Linked DNA regions of Homo sapiens. The protein of the gene in region 1 interacts with the protein of each later gene in a pairwise test. Each region holds a gene or a part of one and is shown in the gene's direction. Other genes may lie near its edges.

The links.
Region 2: the proteins of GPR25 (region 1) and CNIH4 interact in binary tests that used the Homo sapiens proteins (3 or more experiments, as listed by UniProt).
Region 3: the proteins of GPR25 (region 1) and IKBIP interact in binary tests that used the Homo sapiens proteins (3 or more experiments, as listed by UniProt).

The regions. Positions count from the first base shown.
Region 1 is NC_000001.11:200,870,822-200,874,571, forward strand, and holds GPR25 (probable G-protein coupled receptor 25), read left to right. Parts: upstream 1-2,159; 5' UTR 2,160-2,216; coding exon 2,217-3,302; 3' UTR 3,303-3,357; downstream 3,358-3,750. UniProt on the Homo sapiens protein: Orphan receptor.
Region 2 is NC_000001.11:224,355,138-224,358,887, forward strand, and holds the start of CNIH4 (protein cornichon homolog 4), read left to right. Parts: upstream 1-1,741; 5' UTR 1,742-1,787; coding exon 1,788-1,856; exon of another isoform or gene 1,857-1,906; intron 1,907-1,908; exon of another isoform or gene 1,909-1,931; intron 1,932-3,750. UniProt on the Homo sapiens protein: Involved in G protein-coupled receptors (GPCRs) trafficking from the endoplasmic reticulum to the cell surface; it promotes the exit of GPCRs from the early secretory pathway, likely through interaction with the COPII machinery.
Region 3 is NC_000012.12:98,631,083-98,634,832, reverse strand, and holds part of IKBIP (inhibitor of nuclear factor kappa-B kinase-interacting protein), read left to right. Parts: intron 1-419; coding exon 420-537; intron 538-3,750. UniProt on the Homo sapiens protein: Target of p53/TP53 with pro-apoptotic function.

The DNA.
Region 1 (3,750 bases):
CCTTCCTGGGGATCTCCGTGTGCCAGAGGGACCCTGAGCGAGGGTGACCTTATGTCCCAGTTTGCCCAAAATAGTCCTGGTTTACGGCCCAGGTTAATTCTGATAGTGCCCCTTTCACTCTCAGAAACATCCTGGTTAGATGATAAATTATTTCATGACCCCACTTCAACATCAAACTGAACACATACACACATGTGCCTCTCTGTGTTCTTGGCAGTTAAGGGGACAGCGTCCATATAGTCCCTAAGCAGAGAAACCCCAGGCTTATCTTTGACTCCTCTTTGTGAGACCTATGATGTTACAATTATCTCTTGAATATACCCTCCCATTTCTGTCCCCACTGCTCATGATCTATTTCAGACACAAATAATTACAACCTACTATGGGGTCTCCCTGGCTTGAGCCTCTCCCTTCTCCATAGTTCTGCCAGCGATCTTTTCAAAACACAGATCGATGCCTCCTGGCTCCCCATGACCTATAGATTGAAATCCAAATCCCCTCATGATCCTTTCCTGCTTCATCTCCTGCCCCCACCTTCCTACCCTGGGCTCTGGCAGACTGCTTGTCCCCTGAAAAGCCCACATTCCTACTCATTTTGGTATACTTGTTCCCTTTACTCCCTCCTCCGAGTCTGACCCTTTCTTCTCTTTTCTGCTGCTCTTATTTGACTTTCAGCTCCTTCCTGGGACTGATCTCAAGTGTCATCTCCTCGAAGGCCTTTTCTGATTCAGCCCTCCCGTCAAAAATAATCACTCCCCCTCCACTAAACCCTAAGAGGGCTTGGTTTTTAACATTTACTACAATTTGGCCCCTGCATAAGATTACATAAGATTCTGCTTATGTAACCATCTCTCCTGCCTATGCAACAAACTGCGAAGGCCAAGAATGGCATCTCTTGCAGTGCCTGAAACAGTGCCTGCTTCATGGAGGAGTTCATTGTTAACAAGTCTTAATCGAACAAAATTGATAATCCACCTCAAATTTTCCACACCGGGTTGCCCGGCACATCAGCCACTCATACCTGGGAACACTGGGGACAGACTCAGAGGGCACTGTGACATCAGTTCTACCACAATATCTTGTGGAAGGGATATCTGCTAAGAAGAATTCAGATGTAAGTGGCTGCATGCCTCCTTCAGGAGAAAGAGCAAGCTTTCCCTCACCCATCCTCTCCTCCTTAGGTCCCACTGCCTCCTCAGGGTCAGACTTCATTCCCCCTCGTCTTTATGAATCCTCCCCTTACTCTCAGTTTCTCAGTTCAGAAGGGATCTTGCTGCCTCCAAGCTCCTGACTCATAATTTAGGACAACTAATCTGGTGTTTCATTAGGTGTCATCTTTTGAACTGAGCTTACATCTGTGTCTGGCTTGACAGGTTTTTTAGGATAGGAGAAGACAGGGAAGAGGCAGATGTGAATCCCAGGTTTCACCCCTTTCCAGCAGGATGATCTGACTACACCCCTTCCTCGCTGCCTTAAAACCCTTTCGCGTGGCTTCATGAGGACCTGACTGGGTCAGAGAAGCCACTCATAGGGTGAAGACATGAGCCCCACATCTCAGGACGCTAACAACTGCTTGACTGCCCAGGGCGGGCTCCCCCACCCACCCAGATCTGCTGTGTCCCGGCAGTGGAGTCTTTCCTAGGGAACAGGTGGATTTGGGGTGGGGCGTGCCTTAGGCCCCATACTCATAAAATCCCGGGGCTCTGTCTTCTCACCTCTAAAACAGAGAAGACAGCAGCCGGTGGGTGCAGGTGGGAAGGGGTGAAGTGGAGGCTGAGAAGAGGTTAGGGCTCTCGGGCACCCACCACCTCTTGCAACGCGACCCTGAGACAGTGGGGCAAGTATCCCGATTTCACGAACAAAGAAACTGAGCAACTAATAGAGGAATGGGCCACGCTCCTACTGGGAGGCCGGGCAGGTCTCCCAGCCCTGAAGACTTTTCCTCCCAAGATTTAGATGTGAAGCCCCTTTTGCCTGTCCCTGCCCTTACCCCTCGGGTCAGCCCCAAATCGGAGGCCACCATCTCTCTCACAGAAGCCTGCCCCTCCCACCCCATCCCCTCCTCCCTCCCCTCTTTCCTGCCCACCCATTTGCCTCCGGCTTGGGTGGCAGGAAGGGAGGTGCAGGGCCGGGCGTGAAGAGCAAACCCCCTCCTGCTCAGAGCTGCTGCCGCCTGCGCCCAGGGCTGCACTCCGCGCAGGCCTCATAGCCAGGCCATGGCCCCCACAGAGCCCTGGAGCCCCAGCCCGGGGTCAGCGCCCTGGGACTACTCGGGGTTGGACGGCCTGGAGGAGCTGGAGCTGTGTCCGGCCGGGGACCTGCCCTACGGCTACGTCTACATCCCCGCGCTCTACCTGGCGGCCTTCGCCGTGGGCCTGCTGGGCAACGCCTTTGTGGTGTGGCTGCTGGCCGGGCGGCGGGGCCCGCGGCGGCTGGTGGATACCTTCGTGCTGCACCTGGCGGCAGCTGACCTGGGCTTCGTGCTCACGCTGCCGCTGTGGGCCGCGGCGGCGGCGCTAGGCGGCCGCTGGCCGTTCGGCGATGGCCTCTGCAAGCTCAGCAGCTTCGCGCTGGCGGGCACGCGCTGCGCGGGCGCGCTGCTGCTGGCGGGCATGAGCGTGGACCGCTACCTGGCCGTGGTGAAGCTGCTCGAGGCGAGGCCACTGCGCACCCCGCGCTGCGCGCTGGCCTCGTGCTGCGGCGTCTGGGCCGTGGCGCTGCTGGCCGGCCTGCCCTCCCTGGTCTACCGGGGGTTGCAGCCCCTGCCTGGGGGCCAGGACAGCCAGTGCGGCGAGGAGCCCTCCCACGCCTTCCAGGGCCTCAGCTTGCTGCTGCTGCTGCTGACCTTCGTGCTGCCCCTGGTCGTCACCCTCTTCTGCTACTGCCGCATCTCGCGCCGCCTGCGACGGCCGCCGCACGTGGGTCGGGCCCGGAGGAACTCGCTGCGCATCATCTTCGCCATCGAGAGCACGTTTGTGGGCTCCTGGCTGCCCTTCAGCGCCCTGCGGGCCGTCTTCCACCTGGCGCGTCTGGGGGCGCTGCCGCTGCCGTGCCCCCTGCTGCTGGCGCTGCGCTGGGGCCTCACCATTGCCACCTGCCTGGCCTTCGTCAACAGCTGCGCCAACCCGCTCATCTACCTCCTGCTGGACCGCTCATTCCGAGCCCGGGCGCTGGACGGGGCCTGCGGGCGCACCGGCCGCCTGGCGCGAAGGATCAGCTCAGCCTCCTCGCTCTCCAGGGACGACAGTTCCGTGTTCCGTTGCCGGGCCCAGGCCGCGAACACTGCCTCGGCCTCCTGGTAGCTGCCCCGGGCCGCTGGAGGTGGGCGGCAGCGGAGCATCGAGAGGAGGCCAGAGGTCCCGGAGGGGACTGAGCTCCCCAGACGCGCCTGTTCTGGCGGCAGCAAGCTGCTCGGGCCGGCATCGCATTTCCTCGCGCGCTGCCTGGACTCCCAAGGCCTCCTCCATCGGTTTCCCCGGAACCTCAGAACAATTGAACTCCCCTAAACCAGGCTCCTGTGACTAGCTGTTCCCTCTCAGCCTGCAGGGTACCTGAGCTAATTTTGTCCAGTCCAAGATAGGTGCTATGAGATGTAGCAGACAGCAACTCGGAGACCCGCAGATTCACCAAGTAGACAGAAGGGAAGTGGGTTTCCTTCTCTGTCCCATCGGGAAGAGAACCCACCAGAATATCTAACCCAGACCCCCAAATGCCATTCTGATTTCTGGCTGTGCTTTCTCCCGTCTCCCA
Region 2 (3,750 bases), about 23 Mb from region 1:
AACCCCAACTCTACTAAAAATACAAAAAATTATCTGGGTGTGGTGGCATGCACCTGTAATCTCAGCTACTCCGGAGGCTGAGGCAGGAGAATCGCTTGAACTTGGGAGGTGGAGGTTGCAGAGAGCTGAAATGGCGCCACTGCACTCCAGCCTGGGTGACAGAGTGAACTTCATCTCAGAAAAACTAAAACAACAACCACAAAAAAGATGGAAGAGGCATTACATTTGTGGGTGGAAGACATGAACAGAAAACATGTGCCAATTGATGGCAACGTGTTGAGCCAGAAAGTATTGAGCCTATACAAAGACTTCAGTGAGGGATTCCCTAAAACGAGTGATACCAAGCCACTTACTGCAAGTAATGGATAGTTACATGAATGTAAGAATAGATTTGGACTGAAAAATATAAAAATCACTGGAGAGGCTGCATCTGTCTCTTCATCTTATCACATAGGCATTTTATCATCATACATCATCTCAAAAAGAAGGGTCAGTACAATAAGATATTTTGAGACAGAAAGACCACATTTACATAACTTTTATTACAGTATAATTGTTCTATCTTATTATTACTTGTTAATCTCCTACTGTGCCTGATCTATAAATTAAGCTTTATCATAGGTATGTATATATAGGAAAAAACATAGTACACATAAGGTTTGGTACTATCCATCGTGTCAGGCATCCACTTGGGGGTCTTGGAAAGTAGCCCCTGCAAATACAACTGTATTTGTTAAATGAATGAATGGATGAGTAAGACATCGTATTCACTTCTTAAAGATCTTAAAATCTAGAGAGGAGAGAAACATTGCTGTAGGAGAGGATAAACAAAGGACTGTGAAATCTCTGGAGAAATTGAAATCAGGAAGGGAAGGGCAAATCGCAAAAGTCAAGCCAGGAGCATTAAGTTAGATTTGTGCTTTGAGATGAAAACCCCTTACAAATCCTAAGTCAGGGAATGCAATGGTTCTAGAGCCAACTCTAAAGAAAATTTCACACATGGGAAATACATCCTACTGGATATCCGGATTAAAAGCGTTCAGTAGAGACTGGTGCAGTGGCTCAGGCCTGTAATTCCAGCACTGTGGGAGACTGAGGCAGGCAGATCGCTTGAGCCGAGGAATTCGAGACCAGCCTGGGCAACATGGCAAAAACCCCATCTCTATTAAAAATACAAAAAATTAGCCAGGCGTGGTGGTACATTCCTGTAATCCCAGGTACTCAGGAGGCGGAGGTGGGAGGATCACCTGAGGCCAGGAGGTAGAGGCTGCAGTGAGCTGTGACCATGCCACTGCACTCCAGCCTGGGCGACAGAGTGAGACCCTGTCTCAAAAAATAAAATAAAATGAGAAATAATAAAATAAAATTAGCTGGGCATGTCGGGAGGCTGAGGTGGAAGGATTGCTTGAGCCCAGGAATTCGAGGTCATAGTGAGCTCTATCACGCCACTGCACTCCAGCCTGGACGACAGAGCAAGACCCCAGCTCTTTAAAAGAAAAGCGTTGAGTAAATACTTGTTGATTAATTCCATTTCTGGAAATAATCGGATTTATGAAAGAGGCCCTGCCCACCTCTTTGATATGGACTTGTACTAATGAACTACAATTCCCAGCATGCGTCAGAATTAGGGCCGTAGAGTTTTTTAAAATATGGACTACAACTCCCGGCATGCCACACCAGGATTCGAGGACCACACGCCTCAGCCAGCCCCGGCAAGGGCCTATCAGGGGTGGGTCGGGGCATCCGAGCGGGTTTGACGGAAGGAGCGGCGGCGACGGAGGAGGAGGATGGAGGCGGTGGTGTTCGTCTTCTCTCTCCTCGATTGTTGCGCGCTCATCTTCCTCTCGGTCTACTTCGTATCCTTGCCTGAGGCAGGCGAACGCCTTGCCGGGGGACACGGCTGAGGGTGGGCCAGTTGGGCACCCGGGCAGGTGTGTGGGACTAGGGAGGCGCCCGGCGGCGGGCGTGGGCTCCCTGGGAGCTGGCCTGGCCGGGGCGGTGGCGCGGGCCCCGGAGCGGGTAGGAGAGGCTGGCTGCCCTACCCGACGGGCCCTGCTGCCCTGCACGCACTTGCCCTGCCTGGGTTGCCGGCCGCCCCTCACTCGGGTCCGAGTGGGCCTCTCCGGGCGCGCCCCGTCTCGGCCTGCCCGCCTGCTCTCCGCTCGTCCCCGCGGCGCCCGGACCAGCCCTGCCTGAGCCACGGCCGCCCTCGGGAGAGAAGCGTCGCTGTTTTTCTGGGAGAGGCCCTGCGCCGTGCTCTTCGTCGGATATTGGGGGTCCCAAGGGCGGTCGCTTGCGACAGTCGGGTGCCGGGATAAGTGCGGGCCATTTGCCTCCTCCTGTTCCCCACGCAACACCCCCGGCACCCGCCCCTTTGTTCTGGCGGGTGTTAGTACTTGCAGGGACCTTTCACATCCAGGAGTTGACTCATTCGCCAAAGGAGCGAAGTTGCTTCCTTCACTGTGCCGTTTTGTAGTGAGTGTTGGAAAGGAGTTGTTTTAACAACTGTCTACAAAGTGATTATTTTGGTTGTCCCCGGTGGTTGCAGATCTGTAAATTCAATAACTACATCTGCTGTAGTTCCCAATCGTTTCTCAGCTTTTAAATTTTTCTATCGATCCATGTTAAAACTTAAGTTGCAGTATTCAAACTGTTTTCCAGAGCAATAAATGGTGGTTGAATTTAGCACTGCAGTAGCCATGTCGGCTACAACTCTTCCCATCTCTTGACAAAGCATCTAGGCTTAGTTGTTGCCCAATGTTGTATTGCACCATCCAGGTTTAAGTAATTAAATATAAGAAAAAACGTATGAGGAACTCCGCATTTCAGCTTCCTTTCTTGGAAATCACATGTACCTGTTTCTGATCGGATTAAACCATTTGTTTGCTAGAGCATGCGGGCTTTAGGATAGTCGTACAGAGTATATGTTCAGTGCAGCTTCATTTTTCATTGTGGACTGGCATCCTGTTGTAGTGGAAAGGGACAAAATTTGGAATCAGATTTCCTGGTCAGCTAGCTCTTTGCTTGCACATTATTTCCCTAAGCCTCAGTTTTCTGATCTTTAAAATAGGAAATGTTTATTTCCTAGATATGCACAATGAGAATGGTGCTGAGCACCCTAGCACAGTGCCTGCCCCATAGCTAATGTTCAGTAAATATTGCTCTGCCTTCGTGTCCCCACCCTCCCCAATTGAGCAGCAGTTTTTACTTTGATGATATCTAACGACAAGATTTCTGAGTTTTAGTAGGTTTGGGGAGCTGATTGAAAGGGCAGCATCACTTGCCTAAGTTTTGATGACCTCTATGCCCCTCTTGTGATATAAGGAACTAGAGCAAGCTTGTCCAACCCACGGCCCACGGGCTGCATGTGGTCCAGGACAGCTTTGAATGTGGCCCAACACAAATTTGTAAACTTTCTTAAAACATTATGATTCTTTTTTGGTGATTTTTTTTTAAGTTCATCAGCTATCATTAGTATTAGTGTATTTTATGTGTGGCCCAAGGCAATTCTTCTTCCAGTGTGGCCCAGGGAAGCCAAAAGATTGGACACCCCTGAACTAGAGCTTATGCTCAGAAATGTAGCTGGGTTTTTTCTTTTTGCAGTTTGGAAAACCAGGCTTGATAATTTTAAATAGCCCTGGTTTACACCAATTTATGCATTTAGAGAAATGGTAGGTGGAATGTTTGACTTAGACATTACATTAAAATACATTCGGGGGGTGTTTTGATGAAATTCAGCATATTCTGTAT
Region 3 (3,750 bases), on another chromosome or scaffold:
GAGGCTGAGGCAGGAGAATAGCGTGAACCCAGGAGGCGGAGCTTGCAGTGAGCCTAGATCGCGCCACTGCACTCCAGCCTGGGCGACAGAGTGAGACTCCATCTCAAAAAAAAAAAAAAAAAGGCTAAAGACCACCTTTGGCAACATAGCGAGATGGACAGTCCTAGCTATTTGGGAGGTTGAAGTAAGAGGATCACTTGAGCCCAGGAGTTCAAGGCTGCAGTGAGCTATGATTGTGACACTGCATTCCAGCCTGGGTGACAGAGTGAGACCCTGTGTGAAAAAAAAAAAAAAAAAACCTACAGCTACCCATACCAGAATTTATGTTGTTCTTAACAGAAGTGGGTATAATTCTCCTTTGAAATTCGGATTTAAATGGATATGAATTGGAGAATAGTGATTTTTCTTTTCTTTTCCAGGTTTGTATTTCAGCAGTCAGAAAAATTTGCAAAGGTGGAAAACCAATACCAGTTACTGAAACTAGAAACCAATGAATTCCAACAACTTCAAAGTAAAATCAGTTTAATTTCAGAAAAGGTAATCATTAATTGGCTTATCTGGGACGGTTTTCCCATTTTACTACCCCACTATCATTTCTCTATCCCAGCTCAGAACTTCTTTCTTCCTGCCTTTTAGACCATCACTATTTTAACTCTCACTGATCTTCCTACCTCTTGACATTCTCCCTCTGAGCCATTTTGACTCAGATTGCATTTTGAGGGGCAAGGATTTTTTAATATGATAATTTCTAGTATTGAAAAAGACCAATTTGTTCATATTAGCATGATGTTAATTTTCTACTTAAGTGTCAGGTATCTAGAGCATTGAAAATATGGTTGATCATGTCTACAGCCATACCACCCTGAATGCGCTCGATCTCATCTGAAAATATGGTTGATCTTTGGACATAAAATTAGAATATGAATAGCACTTATTGGGAAAAGATCTATCCATTTTTTCCCTTACTTTTTGCTTTTTAAGGATATATGTACATGCATTTAAGAATGGCTAGCCTAGGCTGGGAGTAGTGGCTCATGCCTTTAATCCCAGCACTGTGGGAGGCTGAGCCAGGCAAATCACTTGAGGTCAGGAGTTAGGAGACCAGCCTGGCCAACATGGTGAAACCCCATCTCTAGTAAAAATACAAAAATTAGCTGGGCGTGGTGCACACGCCTGTAATCCCAGCTACTCGGGGGGCTGAGACAGAAGAATCTCTTGAACCTGGGAGGTGGAGGTTGCAGTGAGCCAAGATCACACCACTGCACTGTAGCCTGGGCTATAGAGCGAGGATCCGTCTCAAAAAAAAAAAAAAAAAAAAAAAAGAATTAAAAAAAAAAGAACGGCTAGCCTAAAAGTAACTATTTGTCCTGTAGCCAAATAAGAATTCCAATGAAAATTAAAATAATACCATGTCTATATTGTGTTCCTTCAAGTTGCTGATTTCTACCAGATGCGTTATTACTGTGATTCTTAGAAATGTGAGACAAATAAACATTTTTGTAACTCCCACACCTCTCAGGAGAAAGTCAAAGTCAGCTGTGATCAATAAGGCATCATGTAGGCCTATTCTGGGTACCAGGGACCAAGCTATCATTGGGAAATATGGCTTTTTGTTCATTTATTCATTCACTAAACCTTTGCTCATGTCACAAGGTAAGCAAGGACCTATGCTTGGCACCAGGGTGGGTAAGGATGTTGTAAAAATAGAGATGAAATGGAGCATCTAAGTCCCTGCAGCCCCATGCACAGGATGAGCATATAATCCTCCAGAAGAGAAAAGCCATGGAGGAAAATTAAGTATCCCTCACAAATGCCAGGGGATTCCATGGATGGTGAGTGTAAGGGATTTGGGGAAGGAGCTGCAAAGGAGTTGGTATTTTCACATAGGGCTCAAATTGGAATCTGAGCCAGGCGTAGTGGCTCATGCCTGTAATCCCAGCACTTTGGGAGGCCAAGGCAGGCGGATCACCTTGAGGTCAGGAGTTCGAGACCAGATTGGCCAACATGGCGAAACCCTGTCTCTACTAAAAATACAAAAATATTAGCTGAGCATGGTGGTTCATGCCTGTAATCCCAGCTACTTGGGAGGCTGATGTATGAGAATTGCTTGAACCTGGGAGGCAGAGGTTTCAGAAGTGAGCTGAGATCATACCACTGCACTCCAGCCTGGGCAACAGAGTGAGACTCTGTCCCAAAAAAAAAAAAAAAAAAATTGGAATCTGGTTGTAGCTGTTGGGGGAACTCTAACATACCATTAGAAGAAATCCCAGGGGCAAGAAACTTCATATATATATATATATATATATATATATATATATATTTTTTTTTTTTTTTTTTTTTTTTTTTTTTCAGATAGAGTCTCTCCCTGTCATCCCAGCTCTCACTCTGTCATCCAGGCTGGAGTGCAGTGTTGGAATAACAGCTCAACCTCCCAGGCTCAAGCACTCCTCCCAACTCAGCCTCCCAAGTAACTGGGACTAACAGGCACGCCACTGCACCCAGCTAATTTTTTTTTCTTTAATTTTTTGGAGAGACGGGGTCTTGCTACATTGCCCAGGCTGGTATCAAACTCCTGGCCTCAAATGACCTTTCTGCCTCTGCCTCCCAAAGAATTGATATTACAAGTGTGAGCCACTGTGCCTTGCCAAAACTTCACATATTTAATTAAAAGCTATTGAAGGCCGGACGCGGTGGCTCACGCCTGTAATCCCAGCACACTGGGAGGCCGAAGCAGGCAGATCACGAGGTCAGGAGTTTGAGATCAGCCTGGCCAACATGGTGAAACCCCATCTCTACTAAAAATACAAAAATTAGCTGGGCGTGGTGGCGGGCGCCTGTAATCCCAGCTACTCGGGAGGCTGAGGCAGGAGAATCACTTGAACCTGGGAGGTGGAGATTGCAGTGAGCTGAGATCACGCCATTGTGCTCCAGCCTGGGCAACAGAGTGAGACTCCATCTCAATAAATAAATAAATATAAATAAAAGCTATTGAAAACTTATTTTGAACAAGATTTCTCCTTTTTTTTTTTCTTTTTTTTTTTGTGGGGGAGGTCAGGGGTGGTACAGAGTTTCACTTTTCTCATCCAGGCTGGAGTACAATGGCTCGATCTTGTCTCACTGCAACCTCCGCCTCCCGGGTTCAAGTGATTCTCCTGCCTCAGCCTCCCGAGTAGCTGGGACTACAGGTGTGTACCACCACACCCGTCTAATTTTTGTATTTTTGGTAGAGACGGGGTTTCACCATGTTGGCCAGGCTGGGCACGGTGGTTCACACCTGTAATCCCAGCACTTTGAGGGGCCGAGGTGGGTGGATCACCTGAGGTCAGGAGTTCAAGACCAGCCTGGCCAACATGATGAAACCCCATCTCTACTAAAAACACAAAAATTAGCTGGGCATGGTAGCGTGTGTCTGTAGTCCCAGCTACTCAGGAGGCTGAGGCAGGAGAATCGCTTAAACCGGGGAGGCAGAGGTCACAGTGAGCCGAGATTGCACCACTGCACTCCAGCCTGGGCAACAAAGTGAGACTCCATCTCAAAAAAAAAGCTTTTGAAGCAGATTTTTAAAATATCATTATAGAATCCAAAAAATATTCAGTCTTGGCCAGGCGTGGTGGCTCACACCTGTAATCCCAGCACTTTGGGAGGCCAAGGCAGGTGGATCACCTGAGGTCAGAAGTTCAGGACCAGCCTGACCAACATGGAAAAACCCCATCTCTACTAAAAGTACAAAAAATTACCTGGGCATGATGG